Linked DNA regions of Homo sapiens: region 2 is linked to region 1. The links come from fine-mapping of genetic effects on gene expression. A gene starts in region 1. The other region holds a variant in brackets. All regions are shown on one strand. Distances are between the middles of the regions.

Region 1 (12,536 bases):
TTTTAAAACATTTGCTAGGCAGATATGCTGAAAAAGATCCAAGTGCTTTAAAGTATACCACTGAATTTCTAAGTGAGATACTTAATAAAAAAGAGACCAAAATAACAAAACTTCACATTAAGCCTCTTCACATTATGTGAGATAATACATAACAAATTATAATTTAGCATCCCTGATCAGAATAATTAAGAAAAGAGGTAGAAAACTTTTATCTGGAAGATCTTGTAGTGAAGCTAAGTTTTAGAGGGTGTGCCTTGCGGATTAGTCCACTAAGCAAATGGCTACACATCTAGTACTAGGAAGAAGCAGAATTCTGAGAAAGCTGCATAAGGCAAGGATTTACAATTTTTTCTATTTTGGAAGTGAAACTAGTTCATTCAACAGTATTACTCCAATTGCTTTAAAACTTCAAAAATCAAAGTAAAAGATTGCAGATAAGCAAAGTGCTAATTTGCAGAAATGTGAAATTATTTAAAATAACTTTAGTGGAGGGATAAGGCTAGCACAAAAGCAAACACTCTTTAGGTGTGCAAAAAATCTTACAAAAACCAACCCAAAGCAGAGCATTATTACTTGAAAAAAATTTTTTGGAGGAAGTGCTCTTAACAAAAAGCTGAGAAAATTAAATTCCCCCCGATAAACTTTACGCAAATGAAGAAAAAACTGAGGACTCGAATTTCAAGGAATTTCAATTAAAAAAGTACCCTGCTTAACTTTAAAATGTTATCCAATGTGACAAAGACCAATACATGAATTGCATTAAAACACGAGGCCAACGGTCTTTTAAAGCTTCAGGAAGCTGCTCAGGCACCTATTCCCTCATACATTCTACGTTTTATATGCTAGAGATCTTAAACAGGGCACAATCAGTTCCTGTTTTGTGATAACATTCTCAAGGATGAGACTCATCCCTGTAAAAATTGCTTGTGATGTACTTATCAGTGGTTAAGCACACATTTATAATGTCTACCAAATTGCAATATAAAATCAGTTTGGACAATTCTGAGTATCTTCATTTGATGAATCAATTCATAATTTAGAAACTTAACTCATTCAGAGTTTTTAAAAAGACTCAGTTACTGGAGACACTGTGGTAAATGTCCAGTGGACTCACAGGAGGCCTTCCACATTACCCAAAATGTGATGCTTTCTTCTACAAGTTAAAGCTGCTGGGTGCTAGTTTATAATACTCAATCTCAATCGTATGCCCAGTGGACTCACAGGAGGCCTTCCACATTACCCAAAATGTGATGCTTTCTTCTACAAGTTAAAGCTGCTGGGTGCTAGTTTATAATACTCAATCTCAACCTTCAGGTCAGTGTCAGTAGGTGGCAAGGATCACCTATTCTGTCACTCCAGCAGAAAGAGGCATGTATGTACAGTTTACCACTGTAGACACACATCTGTAAACTTGCACACTAATTTTAATCTTAACAAGGAATTTCAGTGTCTTAGTGGTTTTAAGTTAAAAGGATGGTTCAAGCATTGTATCCTTTGTTCTTTAGGGTTACCATAGCTTATTGGAAAACCCAGAGCCTTCTGGATGTGTGAGGTAGTAGGCTTCAACCCTCATTCATGCATAGGTCACACTTCTCCAAAGTTGGTATGGCCTGTCTCCTTGGCATGTTCCCTTGCTTCTGCTTGTCCAGTTAATCCTTTCTGACATACCATGCATCTCAGGGTGAAGCGGTTGACATCAGTAAACTGTCTCCTTCTTCTAGCTTCATCTGCTAATTCCAGTGCTTGTACAAGAACAATATCATCATTAGAGGAGAAAATGGTCAGAGGAGGTGTATCTGGATCAGGGAAGTTACGCTGAAGTGGATCATAGTGGATGCCATCATAAATAAGCAGAACCCTTTTGGTATATCCTGCATCTTCCCCAAAACGATCAATTCTTACTGTCTGTGTATCCACTACACATATTTCACATTGGTAAAACTTGGACAAAATCGATATCTCTATTGCTCCTCCCCAAGTGTCATCCCTTTTGATCCAGTCACAGTACTCTTGATTTGTTTTTCCCAGTATTGCCTCACTATAGAAGTCTGGATCGCTTGCTACAATTTGTGCTATGAGGCGTCTCATCTCAGGGGCACAAGCTGGATTCAAGACTCCTCCTTCGACGACATAGTACACACTAGTAAAGAGGCAAGAGTTGTCTGCTGGGACCACGGTTCTGGTAAGCACAGGCAAAGTTTCCCTGACGTAACTAGAAGCACCACGTTTAGTAAATGCAGGTGAACTTCTGGGCCTGGTTTGGTCTTCTTCAATGATCAGCATGTCACCTGTTAAAAATAAAACAAATCCCGATCTGCAAAGAAATTACAGAAGAAACCGAGTGTTCTCTAGCCAAGTCTGTAAATTACAAACTGAAGGAGTTAAAGCATAAACTGGGGTTACTAAGGAGAATACAGTTTTGCAAGTAAGTTACCAGTAAGAATCTTTGTTCACTGAATTTTCATAAAGATGAAAAAAGAACAAAAAACACTTGAGGTTGCATCCCAATTTAGTGAAGGGGTCTGGAGTAAACAACTTCAAGCTTACCTAAAAAGATACATTTCAAAAACAAAATTTCCTTTCCTTATACAGTATTTTACAGAAGGTGCTCACTACAGAGTAGGCCGCTAGGGGGTTCTCCTTCTCCGGAAACTTATCTACTCTAGAGTGTTTACAACATCCTTGATACAGCAACTGAAAGCTTTTAATTATAAACACTGATGTTCAAGTTTTGATATGGCACAGAAATAACTGCTGCTGGTTAGAAATTGAAAGAGCTTTCAGTGGGTGTTTTAAAAGCTAACTCGAAAATGAGTATGCCTGTCAAACGAAGTATCTACGAAGGGGACTGCAAAAATGAATCAAGAAAAAAAAAATCCTGCACCCTTGAGATCTCATCGGTGATATAGGGAAAAAGAGACATAAGGACAGAGAAAATAGGCCCTACTTTATATTTTTGTGGACGCCGAGGGAAAACAAAATGGGATAGTTTCAAAGCCGACCAGAAAGCGGAATGGGGAAGGGGGTCTTCAAGGCTTTGGGTTCCCTTTCAACCCTGTGTCAAGACAAGGAGTTGCTAGACACTTGCCCTGGCCCCCGTCAGCATTCTCTGTTCTTTGATCTATCCTCGCCCCTGGCCTCAAAGCCCCCCCGCCGACTCACAGCCACCTTGCCTTGACTGGTGTTTTGTTCTCTCTCACGCCCCTCTCCATCCTCCCGGGACTTTCCCTGGCCCCAGCCCTGATTCCTTACCAGATTGGATGGGCAAGTCTTCCAGAATGGTATCCCCATTGCTGAGATCCAGGCACTCGGGAGGGTATCCGACGAGGATTCGCTGACCGCCGGGGGCGATCCCGGTGATGGCGGCAATTTGGCCCTGGAGTTCCCGCACCCGGGTCCGGCTGGACAGCCCCTGCAAAACATGGGTGCCGTCCTTGGCCTTGCAGCGGAGCCGCCACATCGTGTCGGTCCGGCTGCCCACAGGCCAGGCACCCGCGGGGCCAGCTTTGGTCCCGGCAGCCTGTTGGGAGACGCCGCCGGGGAAACCAGGCGCCGGGTGGACTCCAAAATGGCGACCTTTAGCGGGGCCAAACATCGCGAGAAGTTGCGGGTGGTTGCAGTTATCGCGACGCTTCGGTGCGGCTTCTGCCTTAGTACCTTAGCAAGCGCGAACTCTTTTAAAGTGACAACTGATTTTTCCCCCACCCTCAGAACGAAGATGTAAACCTCCGTATTCCTAAAGGACAACGGGTCTTGCTACCTATAGAGCGAGTGAGGTGCCCTCCGCGTGGGTAGCATATATGCTCAAGAAAAGAGGGCGGGGGAAGGAGTTCCTGAATGAAGGTCTGGAGATTGGAATGTGACCTTGCACTTAGTGAGGTCGGAAATTATTAAATTGGGGCTTCCACACTACACCCAGACTACACCAGGAGAAACAGAATCATAGTTCACAACGCAAACGAATGCCAGGAATGGTCAGTGAGTCAAAGGACCAGTCAAAAACAATCACACTTGTGACTAGACTCGTGGCTGCATTAAACATTGACTCATTGGGGTTCCAGGGGCCAAAAGACTGGCCTTTCTGCCTCCCTGGGACTGTGCTTGAAAACGTCTATTTGCCACTTCAGAAAGCACAGTATGAGGTCAGCATCTGGGCCCAGGGCAGCTGCCTCATTCAGGTGGTGGCAGTGTAAGGAGGAGTCGTGTAACGCGTGTCATCAGATTCCAGTTCAGTTCCTGGGCATACAAATATGAAGACTTCATTCCTGCCTTCATTGTAACAAGTATTCATTGCAGTTGGGAGACAGGGTGGGGTGTGAGACACACAGCCACTGAATTTCAAAGCAACGTGATAATGCTAGATTATCTGTACCTTTTCAAACGTGTATGCCTAGAACCCAGGACTGTGCCTCGCAAATAAAAAGTGTTCAACAAATACTGGCTGAATGAATAAAGACAGAGTTGTATAGACATAGAGAGGGCAACTAGAGCACTCTGGGAGTTGTAAAAAGCCTTAAAGAGGAGATAACTGTTTGAACTTTTGGAAGAATTAGTTTAATTCCCAGGCGAAGGAGGAATAAAGACATCCCTGAATTTATATCTCTCTTTTCCAAGAAATCCATACTCATTGTTCTTTATCCAGCCGGGATTCAGACAGCAAGTCCCACTTGCCAAGAGTGGGTTTATCAAGCATCAAACGGGCCCGCTGGGGCAACTATGAAAAGTGTAGTTCACTTGGTGCAAACTCACCTCCACTGTAAAAGACTTTGCTTCTGAATAAATTATATGTAATGTTTCCATCTTTTCACATCTTTCATGACTCAATTTTTTTTTGCTGGTGCAATTTTCCTCCTTGGTTCTTCAAGACGACTGCAACGGATGATACAGCCTGGGTTAGGGGGTAGGTAGGAGGGAAGGTAGGAGTGGTTAGAAGTCCACCGGGGTGGCCGGGCGCAGTGGCTCACACCTGTAATCCCAGCACTTTGGGAGGCCGAGGCGGGTGAATCACCCGAGGTCAGAAGTTCGAGACCAGCCTCATCAATATGGAGAAACCCCGTCTCTACTAAAAATACAAAATTAGCTGGGCGTGGTGGTCCATGCCTTTAATTCTAGATACTGGGAGGCAGGAGAATCGCTTGAACACGGGAGGCAAAAGTTGCGGTGCCAAGGTCGTGCCATTGCACTCCAGCCTGGGCAACAAGAGCAAAACTCCATCTCAAAAAACAAAAACCAAACCAAACCAAAACAAAAAAAACTCCAATGGGGTGTATGGGTGGGTCCAGGGAAGCTTCTGGTTCAACGATGAGAGTGGTTGATTTTCTTAGGTCACAGCGTCTGACCTGTGGAGCCGGGTATGTATACACCCTAAGGCATAATTAGCTCAAGTGTTGTGGTAGTTTATTCTAGCAAAAACATCTTTAAAGCTTACGTTCCCATTTATGGATCTAATGAGGTTCTGCTGGGATTCAGGAATGAGAGCGTTAATCTTTGCAGCATTTTCTCGTCACCCGGCACACCCGCTCTCAAGACGCCTACCGAATAGTCTACTCTCGCGAGAGTCAGAAAAAAGTCAAGCTTTTTATTAACACCGCCCCCAGCCCTATTAGTTACCAAGCAACAGTGCCACCAGGCTCCTCGGCGCTGGGAAACTCAGGAGCTTGTGATCTCTCTGGTTCCGACTTCCAGCCGCCTTCCCGAGCCAGTTAGGCGATTGCGACCCTGCCCCGCCCCCTGGGTCCTGCAGGCGCCCGATTGGTGGATGATTCTCTCCAGGTGAGGACCTACGCGCGAGGGGGCGGGGCCAGACGGGCTCACATGATTTGCCGGCGACTGTAGCGCCGGTCCCGGCCACAAGCTGTCGGCTCGGTTCGGTCGCGTTACAGGGCAGGCGCCGGGGCCAAGGCAGGGAGGGATCTTAGGAGAGATCGTAGGGTGAGCCACAGCTGCGCAGCCCCGGGTAGGGTCTAGCGGGGCGGGATGTGGGGGCTGCGTGCCCCCGGATGAAGTGCGGGGAGAGGTGCTGGTCCCCAGGCATGGCAGGCAGCGCGGACGTTCTGGGACCGGGAGCCACAGTCTGTGTTTGGGTTGGAGGATTTGTGTGGTCAGTAAAGGAATCGTGTAAGGCTCTTGAAGGCGCAGGATCTTCCGTCCTCACCAGCCCCCTGTTGTCTGAATTGGGGGCATGAGCTCAGGACTTTCCCACTCCAGTTTGAATCAGGGCTTACCCCTCTTCCTGAGGTGACCTTGGGGAAGTCATTTACCACCTCAGCGCTCCGGCGTTCTTTAGACTGAGTCCCGGGGGTAACTAGGGAGAGGGTGCGGAGCAGGGCTTGAGAATGCACTAGAGGAGAAATGACGACGTGCTAGGGCTGTCTTGGGGTCCAGTTACTGTTTTTCCTTCAGGGAATATGTTCGAGATTTTCCCACGTCCCTCACTTTTTTCTTTTCTTTCTTTCTTTTTCATTTTTCATTTTTTTTTTTTTTTTTTTTGACAGAGTCTCGCTCTGTCGCTAGGCTGGAGTGCAGTGGCGGGATCTTGGCTCACTGCAACCTCCGCCTCCCGGGTTCAAGCGATTCTCCTGCCTCAGCCTCCCGAGTAGCTGGGACTACAGGCGCGCACCACCAGGCCCGGCTAATTTTTGTATTTTTAGTAGAGACGAGGTTTCACCATGTTGGCCAGGATGGTCTCTATCTCTTGACCTCTTGATCCGCCCGCCTCAGCCTCCCCAAGTGTTGGAATTCCAGGAGTGAGCCACCGTGCCCGGCCTCACTGTTTGCAAAACTGAGTCCTACCGTTAGATTGGAGTTAATTTCCTGGTAATGTACTTCGTCTATACATAACCCACCCCACCCCAACTGCTGCCACTACTCTGCCCAGATTCTTAAAACTAGAATCTGAGGTCATGAAACCTTGAGCAGGACACTTAATTCGATGAATCTCAAATTTTCAATCTGTAAAATGAGAAGAAATAATGGTGGCAAAATCTGCCTAATTACAAGATTATTGTTAGGACTGAAGAAGATAACGTCTGTAAATGTAGACTCGTAAGTCAGAAGATAAATGTAAGGTTCTAGTGCAACTCTTTTTATAGGTGAGGAAACAGAGGGCTAGAGAAGTAGCTGCTAACTGGGAGAAACAGGACTGAACCTGCCTCTTGGCCCAGGGTGTTTTTACTTATACCACACGGATCCAATGCACTGACTTTTTTTAAGTTATGTCTTCTTTCTTCCCCTTCCCTTTTTTACATTCTACTTCTCTGTTTCAGACATCTGAAGAGCTGCCATGTCTGGGGCATCTTCCTCAGAACAGAACAACAACAGCTATGAAACCAAAACCCCAAATCTTCGAATGTCAGAGAAGAAATGTTGTGAGTTCTGGCAGAGAGGAGGGACTGCTCTCTCTCAGCATTTTATCTTGGGAATATAGTTATAATCCTGGACTCTGCTGCTTGGTGGGAGTGATAAATAATTATTTGACATGGAAATTTAATGCAAAGTCTCCAGGGTAGAATGTCCTGTCTAAAACAAGTAGACTTAGTGAAATGTCTGTTCTTGGGGCTTGACTACTGGTGTAGTCCAGCAGTTTCTTACTGCTTTCTTAAACTGAATCTCTGTCTCCTGGGATGTTTGCACACTGGCTTGCTGATGGAAGTTAGAACTAACATTATTGTACACACAATGAGTAAGGCACAGTTGCAGGTGCAGGAATTACTTGGAGCTGGTAATGTTACCAGCTTTATCTGTTGGGCTAAGTTTTGGGAGAGTGCTGCTCATTGTAGAAATTGCAGATGGGAGCCAGTGCTGCTTGGTTTCCTTCCTACAGGCCTGAGGGGAATGAGCCCTGACACTTGGCTTCTCACAGTGTCTTGGGCATCTTACTTTCTCACAGGTTTAGCCTTTGTACTTTGTAAACTATTTTCCCTATAGGTTCATTTTTTTGAGGACAGCTTTCACATGAGCATTTTCATTTCTATGCCTGTCTTTTAGATAGAAACAGCAGGAGGGTTTGCGAGGAGATGAAGCATCATTTCCTGTCCCCAAGCATCTGTATTTCTAAGCATCATAGGCTGCATAGCTTCCCAAAAGATCTGGGACTCTGTTCCCCACATATTTTGGGGAACTTCAAGGAATGCTAACTCTTGCCTCTGCTTCTGGATGGCACCATTCCTGCAGAATCCTGTCAGTCAGTTCTTCTCACTTCAGTGGTTATATATATATATATATATATAGCCAGTTAGTCAAGGAATATATATATCTCAGCAGGTGGAAACAGCCGACCAGCATGAGACCAGGAATTATCTCATGTTCAAAGCTTTTCCCAGAGCCTCGACCTTGATGTCATGCCCTTGTCAGTTTCATGATTGACAATGATAATCTCTCTTCACCTAGCACCCATGGAGCCTGCTGGACAGAAGCAGCTGGCTGGATGTGATACTGGGGTTGGCAGAGTTAGGGTCTACAATTAGGGTCTCTTTTCTCTGCCAGGGCAAGAAGCCAGGTGCTAAGGGCAGAATACCCCATGAGAGATAACTAGTATAGCATGATGTTTGAGTATAGCCTCTGGAGTCAGACTGCCTGAGTTTGAATCCCGGGTTTATGACTTCTTAGCTCTTGAACAAGTTGCTTGTTCTCTCCATGCCTCAGTTTACTCCTTTTAAAAGTGGGAATACTAACAGTGTCTCCCCCAAGAGTGATGTGAGGATTAAATGACTAAATGTAGGAAGGCGCTTAGAAGAGTGTTGGGCATATATCTAATGTGTGTTATTTTTCACAGGTGACTCAATCTGCCTGTTGTATTTATTCCTGAAATGTTTATATTGAATCATACTCAAATGCTGTATTGGAAGCTCACTATTTAAAAGAGGGCTGTGAATAATTATTTTTTCAGTAAAAAATGTTTTCTTCTCTTATTTGACAATATTGTAACCCAGATTTGGGGATCTAGGATGCACCTCTTACAGGGAGGTACACTAATGTTACTAGGGTGCTTGATCCAAAAGAGAGCTGGGGCTGGGGGGCAGGATCGATAATTGTGGGAGTCTCTGACTACACGATGCCATGTGTCAGTCCTTCTAGCTTTGCTTTTTTCTCCATGGTAGGAATCTCTTCTACCTGCTTTCCTAACTCTTCTGTAGTTCCTTTGCCTTGAGGGCTTTCAAGTCAGGGAAGCAGTAATCCCTGGTTTCTTTCCTGTCTTCTAGACTCTAATTCCTGCTCTGGGCTCTAATCTCTTTTTTTCCATACTCTAGTTTCTCTAAATGCCTTTTTCTTCTCTAAGAAGAAGAAGGTGTCCTAAAGCCACTGTGATTTATTTACCCTATTCTCTCCTCACGTCACAGTCGGGCTGTGAGACTGTTGCAGACATAGTCAAAGGAGAAAATAAAGTTATGAGTATATGTGTTAACTTACTTCCTTTTCCTCTGCTATAGAGCTGTACTTTGGAGCTGGTTCACCTGGCAGCTTAGTGTTCACATCAGCGGCTGCTTTATTAATAGCTTAACCGTTGTTCCCTTGCTGCTCATTACACCTGTGTTGGCTAACTTTGACTCCGGGAAGTGACTGGGCTTGAGGATTTCAGGGCTGAAGAATGACTTTAGGGAGCCAAAACCTCCGAAGGAGCATTACTGGGACTTCAACTGCTCCAGGGATGGGGCGAAGAGGGGCTACTGGCCGAGGTGCCTTTACGGTGCTCAGAGGACTGGTTTCAGGGCTTATGAAAGCAGAAATGGAGGGCCGGGTGTGGTGGCTCACGCCTGTAATCCCAGCACTTTGGGAGGCCGAGGAGGGTGGATCATGAGGTCAGGAGATCAAGACCATCCTGGCTAACATGGTGAAACCCCGTCTCTACTAAAAATACAAAAAAACTACAAAAAAAAAAAAAAAAAAAAAAAAAACTAGCCGGGCATGGTGGCGGGCGCCTGTAGTCCCAGCTACTCGGGAAGCTGAGGCAGGAGAATGGCTTGAACCCGGGAGGCGGAGCTTGCAGTGAGCCGAGATCGCGCCACTGCACTACAGCCTGGGTGACAAAGTGAGACTCCATCTCAGGGGGAAAAAAAAAAAGCAGAAATGGAGAAATCTACATGCTTTTTTTTTTTCTTTTTAATTTTTTTTTTTGAGTAGTTCTGGAACAGACAAATTCTTCCATGTACCTTTCCCTAAATACAAAAGCAATGTATGTTCATAAAAAATTCAAACTACAGAAAGGATTTAGAAAGCGAAAAGTAAAAGACTCCTGTTTCTTCCAAATTTGATTCTTTTAGACATCTTATTCTGGTATATCCTATTAATAAAGGTAGGTTCATATTGTTCATATTCTGTTCAGCTGCCATTTCCTTTTTTATTTTTTTAAATAAGTTACTGTCTTGTGGACATCCTTTTAATGTTGATAAATGCAGATTTACCTCATTCTGCATTGTATGGATATGCCAGCTTTCCACGGATAGGTATTTAAATTGTTTCCAGTTTTTCATCATCACAAAGAGTGCTGCAGTGACCATTCTTACACGTACACCTTTGCACATTTGTGACAGCAACTTTTCCTACAGAAATAATAGAAAAGATAGACACATTGGAAATGTTCATCAGTATTACTAATTTGCTCTCCTAAGAAGTTCTATATTGTAAGCTGTTTTCAATATTTTAAGATATTTGATGGAAATTGGGCAGCATCAACTATAGCCATAGTGGTTAACTGAAACATCAGCTTTCTTAGTGTTTGACCGTAGTTATACGAACTTGGTTATTTCATGCCTGTCAACTGGCAGGAGATAATCAGCAGTTCTGACTTCTGATGAATAAAGATAAAATGTCACTAATGAAACATGCTTTATGGGCAGCATATTTCTAAATATTAGGCCTCTTTAGAGCCAATAAAAGAAGACGTCCTGGGTCCTGAAAAGGCTGGGAACCATTGCTCTCCTAGACCATCCTTCAGGATTAGAATGGAGAGCAAGTTGTGTTTACCGTGAGGGAACCTTTGTCAAGTGCTGACATGAGGCACAGGAGCTGGCAGCTGGGACTGAATGGGCAGTCATGAGATCAGGAGACTGGTCAGAACCCTGACCTTGACTGTCTATTGTGGGACCATGGGCAAAGCTCTTAATTTCTCCAGGCTTGAGTTTTTCCATTTACACGAGGGAAGTTATCAAGTCCTCATTTTTTTTGTAAATCTTTTTTTTAAAATACATTTATTTATTTATTTTGAGACCGGGTTATGAGACTGGCTAATTTTTATATTTTTAGTAGAGATAGTGTTTCACCATGTTGCCAAGGCTGGTCTCAAACTCCTGGGTTCAGGCGATCCACCCAACTTGGCCTCCCAAAGTGAGGATTACAGGCATAAGCCACTGCGCCCAGCCTCAAGTCTTCATTTTATCTAAGCAAGTTTATGAAAGGAAAATGAGTTTAAGTTTAAGAAAAGGAGTTGAACCTGGCTTAAAGAAGGTGGAAGAGAATTTCAGGATTGAAACAGTTTTCCATTGTCTATCAAGAGATGGGTTACATTGTCTCTGAAATTAATCAGGTGGCAGTGGCAGGTGGTTTTGTTTTTTAACAGGCAGGACAGAATGTTCCTACTTTTGCCAGTGTGGTAATTTGAGATAGGAAGTGTGGTTTAGTTTTGTACTCCAGAAAATGAGAAGCCCTGGTTGTAGCAGGTGTGCTTAAGTGTATTCTGGACAGAGGCGAGAGGTGCGTTGCTGGAGGGCTCTTGGGAGGTCCCAGTGGATGCAGTTTTTTGTTGTTGTTGTTCTTAGCATTCTCTGTCCACATGGGTAAACAAGAGCAGCTGGTTCCCTGGTTGCCTTCAGAGCAGCTCCCAAGTATCAGTTCATTTTAAACTTTAGGGAGGGTAATAGGACCTTCGGGGGAAGTGCCTAATGGGCTGGAAGGTGCGGACAAAGCAGGCCTAGAAGTGCAGGTAATGAGCCAAATCATGGGGGATTGAGAGCAGGCATTGAGCCGAGCTGGAGAAAGTGAAGACTCAGGGGATTTTACTACTTAAACCTGAGACAGCTGATCCCATGCAGAGGCTATCTGCTTGTTAGGGGCCAGTGATCAGGGATTAATGCCAGCTGAGGCTTCAGGGTACAGTTTGCTTGCCTTTAAGCTCCCTATTTGAACACAGATGAAAATCACTTATGTTGCTCCTTTACCTACCTTGGAGGGGCTCCTGCTGAGACTCAGGAATTTTCCATGTGTGCAGTGGGTAAAGGACTAAAAGCCAAGCCCTCTGACCCCAGGTCTGGGCCTCCATTTCTCCCTCCTCACCACTAGGGTCACTCTGAGTACTTCTTGCCAAACACCCTTAGGAAACTTTTCCTTCCGAGGGTGGTTCTCTACCTGGGCCCCTCCTCCCACTTCTCCATTGAGATCTTTCTACATTTATTTCTCAAAAAATGAAAGTCATATTTCCCATCCAAGTACCTCCATTTTACAGAACTGTTTCTTAATCTTACAAGGTCCCTTAGTACCAGGCAGAGGGGCAGCCGCAACTTGCAGGGCACCTTCTGGGAAGCAGTGGTGGGAAGTGGGAGGTG
Region 2 (12,714 bases), 50 kb after region 1:
AGATGGCACCACTGCACTTTAACCCAGGTGGAAAAGTGATACTCTGTTTTAAAATAAATAAATAAATAAAATGTATGGGTTTTTTGTTTTTTTGTTGTTGTTATTTTTGAGACAGTGTCTCCCTCTGTCACCCAGGCTGGAGTGCAGTGGTGTACTCATAGCTCACTGCAACCTCTGCCTCCTAGGCTCACGAGATCCTCCCACCTCAGCCTCTCTAATAGCTGGGACTACAGGCATGGGTCACCACGCTTGGCTAATTTTTTAAGGTTTTGTAGAGACAGGGTCTCCCTATGTTGCTCAGGCTGGTCTTGAACTCCTGAGCTCAAGTGATCCTCCCACCTTGGTTTCCCAAAGTCCTGGAAAGTGCTGGAATTACAAACATGAATCACTGTGCCTGGCCTAAAATGTATGTTTTTCTAAAAAAAAAAAAAAAAAAAAATCAGAGAATATAAATACTAAAAAACAAACATAGAAGTGCAGAAATATAAAGACTTAGTGTATAGACCCTTAAAGCCCCCTAATTAACTCAGAGTCATGTGGCCTCACTGGCATTTCGATCTCGTTATATACCTTCAATGCACTTTGCAGGCAACTCTCATATTTTTCTGATGAAAAGCAATTGCTCCTTTTTAGCCCCTTCGCTAAGATTTATTTGCAGGTGTCTCTCATTTTCTACTCCTTTTTAGAGCTTAGATGCCAGATGCCTTTTTAGGTTATTGAATGATAAAGTGCTTCTATCACTCTCCCCACCCAAAACCTGGGTGTGTAAACACCTGATTCAGAATTTCTCACTTCTCTATGTTTTATGGGTTGACTCATCACTTGGGTCCTCTCCTACCTCCAGGAAAATGGTTTTACTTTGAACTGCTTTGTAATACCGAGATAACTTAAGCATGCATTGAGGCTCAAGGGCAGGGAGGTGGATTCCATCACAGCATGAAATACTGAAATACAACTACACAAAACCAGTCTCCATTACCCAATTCAGAAAGTGGAAAAGCTAAGCCTTGTTCTAATTTCTGTTCAGGTACTACTTAGTGGGCGTGCAGGAGCAGCAATGCGTTGATGGGGAGTGGAGCAGTGCACTTCCAGTCTGCAAGTTGATCCAGGAAGCTCCCAAACCAGAGTGTGAGAAGGCACTTGTAAGTAGGAGGCTCATATCTGTCTTGTTCACAGCTGGATCTCCAGGGCCTGGCATCACTCCTGGCATATGCTCAGTATATATCTGTTTAATGTGGGACATTTTGCTTTTGAATGGGTTGGCCTTGGCCTGGCTGTAGAAGGGACTCATAAACTATTAACTCACATTTTTATAAATGGAAGTTGGAAGTTCCCATTCACTACCATCATCACAAATACCTCATGAGACCCTGTTGGTAGAAGTTGTTGTCTCATGTGCCTTATAGAGCAGTGGTTCCCAACCTTTTTGGCACCAGGGATGGGTATCATGGAAGATGACTTTTCCACGGATGGGGGTGGGGAGAGTGGGGATGGTTTGGGGATGATTCAGATGCATTACATTTATTGTGTACTTTATTTCTATTATTATTACATTGTAATATATAATAAAATGATTATATAACTCACCATAATGTAGAATCAGTGGGAGCCCTGAGCTTGTTTTCCTGCAACTAGAGGGTCCCATCTAGTTAGGAGTGATGGGAAACTGACAGATTATCAGGCATTAGATTCTCATCTGGGAGTGTTGGGAAACAGTGACAGATCATCAGGCATTAGATTCTCATCTGGGAGTGATGAGAGACAGTGACAGATCATCACACATTAGAATCTCATCTGGGAATGATGAGAGACAGTGACAGATCATCAGGCATTAGAATCTCATCTGGGAGTGATGGGAGACAGTGACAGATCATCAGGCATTAGATTCTCATCTGGGAGTGATGGGAGACAGTGACAGATCATCAGGCATTAGATTCTCATCTGGGAGTGATGGGAGACAGTGACAGATCATCAGGCATTAGATTCTCATCTGGGAGTGATGGGAGACAGTGACAGATCATCAGGCACTAGATTCTCATCTGGGAGTGATGGGAGACAGTGACAGGTTACCAGGCATTAGACTCTCATAAAGAGGGGTCAACCTAGATCCCTCGCATGAGCAGTTCACAATAGGTTTCACGCTCTTATGAGAATCTAATGCCACCTCTGACCTGACAGGAGGTGGAGCTCAGGCAGCAATGTGAGCAAAGCAGAGTGGCTATAAATACAGCTGAAGCTTTGCTTGCCTGCCCGCTGCTCACTTTCTGCTGTGTGGCCCAGTTCCTAATAGTCCGTGGACCGGTACCGGTCTGTGGCCCTGGGGTTGGGGATCCCTGTTATAGAGCAAAGCACATAAGCACAATGCGTGAGAATTGGAAAAGTCTCTAAAATTCTTCTAGGCTCCAAAACTAAACAAACAACACTGAACAGATCCATTTTCATTGAGATTCTTCTTTTAGTTCATATTTATTACTGGGATAATATTAATAAGTATATTTAAGCCAGAAAATATAAATGATTTGCCATGTTGAAAACCCAAATCTTTACTTAAGCTAGCCTGGTTCTGAGCCCCCATTCAGAGAGCTAACTGCTGCTCACTGGCTTCAGAGTATATAGCTGGGTCTCAGTCCTTATGTTGTAACTTGTGAAAAATTTTCTTTCTTCAGCTTGCCTTTCAGGAGAGTAAGAACCTCTGCGAAGCCATGGAGAACTTTATGCAACAATTAAAGGAAAGTGGCATGACAATGGAGGAGCTAAAATATTCTCTGGAGCTGAAGAAAGCTGAGTTGAAGGCAAAATTGTTGTAACACTACAGCTGAGCAGATGTAATAGAAATAAACCTATGAATAAATTTTCTTCTTGGTTCTGAAATTGGTTTCAGATTTACCTCTTATTGGGCTGAAATTGCCAACAGCAGTTGTATAATGCACCATGTGTGTGTGTGTGTGTGTGTGTGTGTGTGTGTGTGTGTATGTGTGTGTGTGTGTGTGTGTGTGTTGTTCTCAGAATGTGAAAAGGCCAAATGTAGTGGTTGTCTAAGGCCAGAATTAGCAACATATTATTGGAGAATAGAGGGCTTAATTTCCAGTCTGTAAGGAGAATGGAAAACTCTGATCTCAGCCGAGAGAGTAACTCGTATTTTAACATGAGACCATGAATTATGAAACCAAAACTAACCGCAACTTATGAGGCAAAAATTAACCTTCCATTTTGGAAAAGATGCTTAGAATAGTTACATCCTTAAAAATGACCCACTGGGACAGAAGGAGAGCTAGGACCCAAATTCTCCTCCCAGTCTTGCCCACATCTGGCTTACGGAAACAGGTTTCCAAAGCTGCAGGAAAATTGCTTACTGCCTCTTGAATGAAACCTGGTCCTGCATGATAAATTAGAGATGGTGCAACACAAGTGAATATATTTCTTCTCTTTTTTAGAAACAAAAATTTTATATTATTTTTTACTTACAATTCTCCTTTTTTAGAGGGTAGAAGAAATAAGAATCCTAAGGCTTTCAATCAAAATGTCATACTGAGCTGGCATGACAAGCTTCTCCCACCTCTCGTCCTGACTGCTACCTGAAACACGTAGGATATCTAGATAAAGTGCAACCAAAATATATAAGCCAGCTTGAAATAATGGAAAATCGCTAGGTAAAGTTATGAAGGGGAATAAGAGATGGACTCTTGAGTACCCCAGAGTCTACTAATAGGCACAAGACATGTACACACGTAGCATTATTTTAGAGTGGTTAGAATGAACTAAACATTTTCAGACAACAGTGGGCTATGAGAGCTCAGATGAGAGGAGGTTCACTTCTGTCTGGGAGGAGGAGGCAGGAATATTGTCAAGGAAGAAGTCACAGTTATTTGGGCCTTCAAAAGTAAGTGAGAATTAGAGACAAAGATTAAAGAGCTCATTCCAGTTGGAAAGAATATTTGAGAAATGGAGTAAGACAATAATAAGATTTAAAACCAATTTTTTTTTTTGAGATGGAGTTTCGCTCTTGTTGCCCAGGCTAGAGTGCAATGGCGTGATCTCAGCTCACCACAACCTCTGCCTCCTGGGTTCAAGCGATTCTCCTGCCTCTGCCTCCTGAGTAGCTGGGATTACAGGCATGCGCCACCATGCCCGGCTAATTTTGTATTTTTAGTAGAGACGGGGTTTCCCTATGTTGGTCAGGCTGTCTCGAACTCCTGACCTCAGGTGATCTGCCCGCCTCGGCCTCCCAAAGTGCTGGGATTACAAGCATGAGCTACCACGCCTGGCCAATAATAAGATTTTTAACCAAGTAAATTCATTCCTAGGATTAATCTAACTGGAGGAAAATGATTTGAAATTGAAGCTACTTCTTATTTGTACATATTATCTATCTAGGAGGATCTTATGAGCATTTGAAATGTCTACTCTTAGGAAAATTTTGAATAAATTATGGTACTTTAAATGTAATGCAGACCTATATGGTGATAAATATGAGGAAGTAGAAAATCTTAAAAATACAATCTTAAGTAAAAATAGAATATTTAATAACAAGGGCTTATGATTGCATTTATGTAAAACCTTTATTCTTGTGGGAAAGGATTAGACAATAATAGGCACAGATAAAAACATTTGTCTTAGAATATGAAATTATAAGTGTTTATTCTCTTAAAACTTTTTAATGTTGTAAAATGAATTTCTAATAATAATTTTAGAAGGCATTGCACAGAGGCAGAAAAAATGGGATATGTTTAGGAACTTGCACATAGCCTGGACTGGCCTAGATGAAGCATGGAAATTGGTGAGAGAGAAGGTGGCTGGAAAGATAAGTCAAAGCCAGTTTATGGAGGCTTTTGAATGACGTGCTAGAGAATATACACTTGTTTTTGGTAGGCAGAGAATATACATTTGTTTTTTGGCAGTCAGACCATGAAGACATGGAAGCCTTGCAAACAATGAAGTAATAAGGACAGAACATAAAGAAAGATTTCTCTCACAATGTTGGTTGTAGTATTGGTTGATGAGGGAAAAGAACTAAGAGAAACCAACGAAAGGACTCCTACAATAGTCCATATGGGAGGCATTATCAACCTGAACTGGTTTGGTGGCAGCAGAAATGAAAAAGCAGCAGCAGACACGAGAGATATTGAAAACTTGTATCAAAACAACCTGTCAACTAATCAAACATTGAAGGGTGAGGGAGAGGAAGAGTTCAAAAGTGAATCTGAAATTTTATTCCCGAGAACCAGAGGTCAGAAAAAGCTGGGGTCAGAAAGTGAAGCTTGTTGGCCGGAAATGAGAAATTCCTCTTTGGATGTGCTGAGGGTGAAGTGCTTGCAAGATGTCCAGTGGGGGGAAAAAAAAAACAAAACCTAAGAAAGTAAGTCTTGAGTTTCGGAGAGTAATCAGAAATAATAATGTAGTGCTGGCTAGTCTTCTTACTGGTAATAGTTAAAGCTGTGACAGAAGGCAAGATCATTAAAATTGCGAAGATAATTTTTTTAAAAAAAGAAGAGCCTGAGATATATCTATATTTAGGAATGAGAAGGAGGAAGAGAAGGTAACAGTAACTAAGAAAGAGAAATTAGTTAAGTTAAGGGAATCAGGTAAGTTTAGTGTCATGGAAGCCAAAGGAGAAGAGAGTTTCAGAAAGGAAATGATCAGCAGTGACAAAGGCTGCAGACAGATCCTAAGAAATGAATTAAAGATATTTTGGACTTGGACCTAAGGGCGTGCCTCAGAGAGACATGTCAGTAGAAGAGTGGTAGAAGCCAGATGGGAAAGCAACAGGTGGAGTGATGAATGAGAAAGAACAGGCAGGTAGAACAAGTCACACCTTTGAGAAGTTCAGCATCACACTAAAGAAGAAAGGTGGAATTTGAGGTATTGGCAAAATTGAAGGGACATTTCAGGATGAGAGATGCATTGAAAATGAGGCAGGAAAAGAAGAAACAATTCTCCTCGGAATGAGGAGTGAATAGGAGGGAAAATTTGACATTGATGAAGCTAAGGTAGAATGATTTTTAGTAAAGTAGGAGGTAAGAGCATCTGCTGAGAGGGAATGTGACAATTTGGTGACCTGGAGAGAAAAATCTGCAAGAGTCACTGTGGAAAGTAAACGAAAGGACTTCAATACATTGGAAAACGGTACTTTAAAGAAATAGCAGCTTTAAAGGTGATATTTCTTCCAATTTAGTCTCAAGACTGTGCAATCTGGAATCCTCCTCTATCTTCATTCTGGTCAAATCAGTGTCTCACCTTGGTGACCTAGCGCATGGTTTCTTTACATCTAATATCCTTACCACTTTTATCTAATAATTTCTACCTTTTATCCAAATCTCACATCTTCTGTAGAAACTTCCTTGATTAACTCAACCTGTTGTAGTTTAGTTCCTTTTCTGAAACTCTTCTGGGACTTTCAGTATTTATTACAGAAAAAGTGAAGTTCTCAGAAAGAATTGCCTTTTAATAGCAATCTTCTGAGCACACAAATCTTAACCTTGAGGATTAGTAGCTTAATTGGACTATGTAAGTGCTTGTGGTCTTTTTAGATCTATGCGAGAGGAAACATGGCCGGTCCTTCATTGCGTTCTTCTGAGCGCACTGGATAGATCAATTTTTGGAGGCCCTCTGGTGCCTGACATGTAGTAGCAGTTAACATTTGCTGAACTCCAAATACGTTCTAGATAACTCAGCACATAGTGGAAACCCAATGCATGTTTGATAAATTCCCCACCTTTTGTAATTCCTTGGGGTGGGATAGAGACGAGCTCTGGGCAAGAATATCAGTTTTCAAACTCCAGGAAAGCATACTGGACCTAGTGTCATGGAAAGTGGATCATTTTTGCGGAGGCTCTCTGAACCTCGCAGTATCCAAGGTTTCCAGGCTAGCTGGACTGTGTCTTGCCATAACCCTTATGTGTTTATGAAAAGAAAAAAGAATTCTGGCTTCAAATTCAAATTACCTTTCCACTTAGGGGAAATGGTTGGCAGAGGAGAAAATAAACGATTGCGACATGTTACGAAGAATGAGGACTAGCAAAGAGGAAGGAGCTTAGGTAAACAGTGCTGCTTTATTTCTGCTGTTAATCATTCATTGGGCCCGTCAAAAGTTTCTGCCCATCTATTTCCATCAACCGTCCTTGACCAGCCAACCACATGGCTGAAATTCAGGGACTCTTTGGTGGAGCAATTACCAGTCAACTTCAGGGTATTATGATAAACTCTGATCTGGGGAGGAACCAGGACTACATAGATCAAGGCAGTTTTCTTCTTTGAGAAACTATCCCAGATATCATCATAGAGTCTTCTGCTCTTCCTCAACTACCAAAGGTCGGTGGACTACTAAACCCTTGGGGAAGCTTGGAGGAAAGGCTGGTGGTTTGGCCCTTTAAGGAGTGCAGGATTAGAAGGATAAAACAGAGACAAAAGCTTGGAGGTGTTTTCAGCAGAAATCTTTTCAGGAGCACTGTATTAGGGGGATGTAAGACTTGAGACGTACTTTAAACCCTATCTGAACCTCAAGTTTTAAAAATTATAAATGGAGGAATAATATTGCATTCTAATAAAATAAGCTAAAGAAGAAGAGGTGTAAGGTGTTGCTCTTGTTACTGTATCTAAAAGACAGATGTGTTGGTTTGTTGATCTTTCACCACCTTCCCACATCAGAGTTGAGGCAAGGGGTCAATCAGACTTTTCAAAGGGTTCACAGGAAGCTTGCTTTTCTTAGTCTACATTCTGAAAACTGGGGCCATTTCTATTTTGAGATTTGATTAACCACTCCAAATCTCCTCCACCACTGACAGCAAAGATGTTTAGATTTGGTAAT[AAGG/A]AGGACACTGGCCAGCCTCCAGTTGGTTTCTGAAGCTAGCAGTCTTAGTCGTCCTCATCTTCTTTACTTTCTGAATTTGACGATGCTGATAACCCTTCCTTCTTGAAATTCTCTTCTTCCTTGGTTGGCCAGGATACAGTACCATTCTGGTCCTCATTTTAATTCTTCAACCACTTGTCTCTTTGCTGATTCCTATTCTATCTCTAAATATGGTAACACCAAAAGAATAAAAAGTAGACTACAGAAGAGGCAGAAGCATCAAAGAAGGTTGGCATTAAGCTTAGAGATATGTTTGAATGTAGTATGAGCACAGAATAAAGGGGCTGATAGAAAAATAAAGAGATTTGGCCAGGTACGGTGGCTCACTCCTGTAATCCCAGCACTTTGGGAGGCCGAGGCTGGCGGATCACCTGAGGTCGGGAGTTCGAGACCAGCCTGACCAACATGGAGAACCCCTGTCTCTACTAAAATTACAAAATTAGCCAGGCATGGTGGCACATGTCTGTAATCCCAGCTACTTGGGAGGCTGAGGCAGGAGGATCATTTGAACCAGGGAGGCAGAGGTTGGGGTGAGCTGAGATCGTGCCATTGCACTCTAGTCTGGGCAACAAGAGTGAAACTCCACCTCAAAAAAAAAAAAAAAAGAAAAAAAAAAGAGATTCTAGGAAGGGTGGGGAAAGTGTGGGAGCCAGTTCTTTCTGGAGTTTGTAAGTGATATAATTGAGAGCCCAGGTATAAGGAAGAAGACACTCAGCCCGAGACTGGAGAAAAATACTATCCTTTCACAAGGTATCTGCATTTTAAAAGGGGGAAGTTAGACAAAATAAATATTAACTTAAAAAGTAACTTCTCATGGAAGGAGAAATTTGAGGACTAAAGATTTTTCCAGTGACTCTCAAATTGCACTGCATTGCTAAGTGCTGATATTATTTTTCACAAGGGACCCGCCATGCTGACTAAAGTTCTTGAGTTGGTTCCATTTCTGCAGGAATTTAAAAGGTGAAGTCCTTGAAATATGAAAGTTGGCTAGAGTAGTCTCAGCTTTTCAGTGAGCAGTTACAGAATTGCAGAATTTGTTCATCTAGGTTTAATGTCATTATTTTAGAGATGGAGGGAACTGATATCCAAGAAGCTGATATAGCTTCTTCAAGATCACAGACTTAGACTGTGGTATTGCTGGAACTCCAACTTGTGTCTTCTCAGCTCGCAAGTTCTAGCCTCCATTCCCATACTCTGTGGCCAGCTGGTTTCTGCTGAGGGACCACCAGGAGTAGTTATGGTGAACTGCAAATGCCGTAGTTGGAGAAGAGTTAGGATGCATCCTGATGGTTTGTTAGGGAAGTCTAGTCACTGTATTATCTCTCTTCAAAACTGACAAAGCATTTCACACACATTATTTCATTTGGTCCTCAGTGAGACAGTCATTCTCATTCTAAAGATAAAATTAAATTGACTTTCATTCCTTTTAGATTTATTATTGTTTATTCTGTCTTATTCCTTCCTCCGTGTAAGTTTTTTTTTTTTTTTTGAAACGGAGTCTCGCTTTGTTGCCCAGACTGGAGTGCGGTGGTGCAATCTCTGCTCACTGCAAGCTCCGTCTCCCGGGTTCACAGGCCATTCTCCTGCCTCAGCCTCCCGAGTAGCTGGGACTACAGGCGCCCGCCACCACGCCCAGCTAATTTTTTGTCTTTTTAGTAGAGACAGGGTTTCACCGTGTTAGCCAGGATGGTCTCGACTTCCTGACCTCGTGATCTGCCTGCCTTGGCCTCCCAAAGTGCTGGGATTACAGGCGTGAGCCACTGCACCCGGCCTCCTCTGTGTAAGTTTTAAGCTAGTTAAATTCTGGTGCTCAAATTAGGTCTTTCTAAAGGCAGTGAAAGAAATCTCTGCGAAATAAGGAGGAACTCTTTTCTCTTCCTCTGCATCTGCAAAAAAGCAGATGATAATCTGCGTGATAAAACTGACCTTGCAAATGTTTTTTTTTAACAAAGGAGTCACGGGGTTATATAGACCAATTACAATACCACGTTAGAGATGGAAAGTTGAATAAACACCTTCCTTGTCTTCAAGGAATTCACAATGTATTTCGGGAGGCAAAAGCAAATAGATAGTTAGGATACAAAACAATGCTACAATTAAGGTATTAGCCAAGTACTAGAAGAACAGAAAACACTGGCATTTCATGATGAAGTCAGGCAATGCTTCACCAAGGAGGTGACATTTGATCTGAATAGTGAGTAAAGGAATAGTGAGTAAAGGAGAAGTTGGAGGTAAGAGCATTAATGCATGGGAGACATTAACTGCAAATGCTTGCAGGTGTTTTTTAAAAAAATCCTGGCTTTGTATGGTGGCTCACGCCTATAATTCCAGCACTTTGGGAGGCCGAGGTGGGAGGTTCACTTGAGGCCAGGAGTTCAAGACCAGCTTGAGCAACATAGTGAGACCCCTGTCTTTACAAAAAATTAAAAAATTAGCTGGGTGTGATGGCACGCTCCTGTGGTCCCAGCTACTGGGGAGACTGAGGTGGGAGCATCATTCGAGTCCAGGAGGTTGAGGCTGCAGTGAGCTGTGATTGCACCACTTCACTCCAGCTTGGGTGACACAGAGTGAGACCCTGTCTCAAAAAAGAAATCCAGAATGTTTTTGGGGAAGGGTAAGTGCCTCCTTGAGACTGAAGCATGGTGTTCTAAGTGAGAAATGATGGGAAAACTGGGACAGATAGGGGAACCTATGGAAACTGGGAACCATGAATGTTTTTAAGCAGAGTAACAACACATAAATTGCTTTTTAGGGACATAATGGCATCAACATGGAAGCTGGCTTATAAATGTTTGAAGGCTTTTGCAGTGGTCTAGGGTGAGGGGAAGGGAATTATAGGAACCTAAACCTGGACTATGGAAGTGGAGTGTTGGAGAGAGTGGCAGATTCTGGTGCAGCTGCTATGACCAACTTGATAGGACTTGACGACTCTGAATAGTGCAAGGAGGTGAGACAGAGGAGGCAATAATGACTTGGATTTCTAGTCTGGGAGGCTGGGTGGAGATTGTCACCTTCACTGAGACAGAAAGCACAGATATTAAGTAGTGTTGGAGGAACATAGTGAATTTAGTTTGAAACATGTTAAATTCAAGGTGCCTGGGAGATACAAATGAAGTGATTGGAAATATTGATTTGAACCTTGGGAATTTTAACTTAAATTATTATTATTATTATTATTTGCTTAAATGAGAAATCTAACAGAGTCAAAAAGTTTTAGTTTACTTTCAAGTTTGCAGATAAAGAGGAAAGTGTAATAATTATTTCTGGATTTGGCAAGGAAAACTCACAAGCACTTATAACTTTCAGTAAACAGAAATGTTTATTTAAATATTATTCCAGAAAAAAAAATTCACTAAGATAACCAGTCAGAATTACACTTTTCTGAGGTTAAAATTACTGTCATGTGGCAGAGCAATCTCTAAAATCCAGGAACGACTCCTTTGTTAGAAAAAACATTTGCAAGGTCAGTTTTGTCACGTAGATTATCATCTGCTTTTTTGCAGCTGCAGAGGAAAAGAGTTCCTCCTTATTTTACAGAGATTTATTTCATTGCCTTTAGAAAGACGTAATTTGAGCACCAGAATTTAACTAGTTAGCAACCAGAGTAAAGAAGACAAGCCTGAATAGCTTAAAACTTACACGGAGGAAGGAATAAGACAGAATAAAATAATTATTAACAATTGAATTTATGGAGCATGGAAGTTTTTGCATGAACCAGAGACAATTAGGCCCAGAGGTCTGTGGGTGATTCATTTTATTTATTTATTTATTTTTGAGACGGAGTCTCTCTGTCGCCCAGGCTGGAGTGCAGTGGTGTGATCTCGGATCACTGTAACCTTTGCCTCCCGGGTTCAAGCGATTAACCTGCCTCAGCCTCCTGAGTAGCTGGGATTACAGGCGTGCACCACCACACCCAGCTAATTTTTGTATTTTTAGTAGAGACGGGGTTTCACCATGTTAGTCAGGCCGGTCTTGAACTCCTGACCTCGTGATCTGCCCGCCTCAGCCTCCCAAAGTGCTGGGATTACAGGCGTGAGCTACCGCGTCTGACCTGTGGGTGATTCAGGTATGATGATTAAAGTTATGGATGTGGATGACTTCCTTTCAGGAAGATAGTTGAGGGCAAGGGAAGACAAAGCCCCAGGACAGCCCCAGAGGCCCCAGCATTCCTCTGCTGTGCATGACACATTAGATCTCACTGTACCAAAGGCCACAGTGGAGACCAGATCCAGGGCTTCTAGCCGGAAGTTCAGTGGATGCTCCTCTGCACTGGGGTGTAATTAAAGTCCCTGGTGATGCAACCATTTATTGCAATTTTAAATCATTATGATGACAATGTTTTGACATCCAGGAGTTTGGCTTCTGACAGAGTGACATTCCAATGCCAATTCTATGAAACTCTTCCCTATAATTTCTTTTGAATGTTTACTATGTGCTGTCCACACACCATGCCAAGCCCCTCTCAGAAATTCCGAGATATAATTACAGTTATCCTTCTTATTTTATAATAAAGGAAACTGAGGCTTAGAGGAACTGAGTGTTTTGTCCATGGGACTCGGTTCCCATGTGGTAGAGCCAGGACGCCAACTCACATGTTCTGGGTGTGACTCCAGAGCCCATGCCCAAGGTCTTGGCCACACTGTCCTCCTCTGTCCCCAGCTCTGTGGCCATGGCCTAGGTGTGAGGATGAAGTAAAGGGAGTGAAATAACTTCCTCATCACAGTGTAGGGTCTGCATTTGTCTGTATCTCCTGTCATAACCTGTGGAAGGAGGAGAACCAGTTTTTGCCTACTGCTTCCCTCCTTCACTGTCCTCCCTTGACTAGTTGATGATATGATGACTTCAGTTTAAGAATGGAAGAGCCTAGA

What was found.
Region 2: its variant is fine-mapped to the expression of YOD1 in whole blood (TOPMed, PIP 0.99).

What each region holds. Positions count from the first base shown.
Region 1 is chr1:207,047,436-207,059,971 of GRCh38, forward strand. It overlaps YOD1 (YOD1 deubiquitinase), which reads right to left and starts at 3,773. Exons shown (of 2, transcript NM_018566.4): 1 at 3,253-3,773; 2 at 1-2,288. The coding sequence starts at 3,595. The coding sequence ends at 1,585. It overlaps PFKFB2 (6-phosphofructo-2-kinase/fructose-2,6-biphosphatase 2), which reads left to right and starts at 5,840. Exons shown (of 15, transcript NM_006212.2): 1 at 5,840-5,931; 2 at 7,266-7,367. The coding sequence starts at 7,283. RefSeq lists enhancers at 3,337-3,907, 5,131-5,770.
Region 2 is chr1:207,097,123-207,109,836 of GRCh38, forward strand. C4BPA (complement component 4 binding protein alpha) reads left to right here and starts at 7,111. Exons shown (of 12, transcript NM_000715.4): 1 at 7,111-7,308. It overlaps C4BPB (complement component 4 binding protein beta), which reads left to right. Exons shown (of 7, transcript NM_001017365.3): 6 at 1,028-1,142; 7 at 2,667-2,871. The coding sequence ends at 2,807. The variant AAGG/A (reference allele first, on the strand shown) is at 7,805.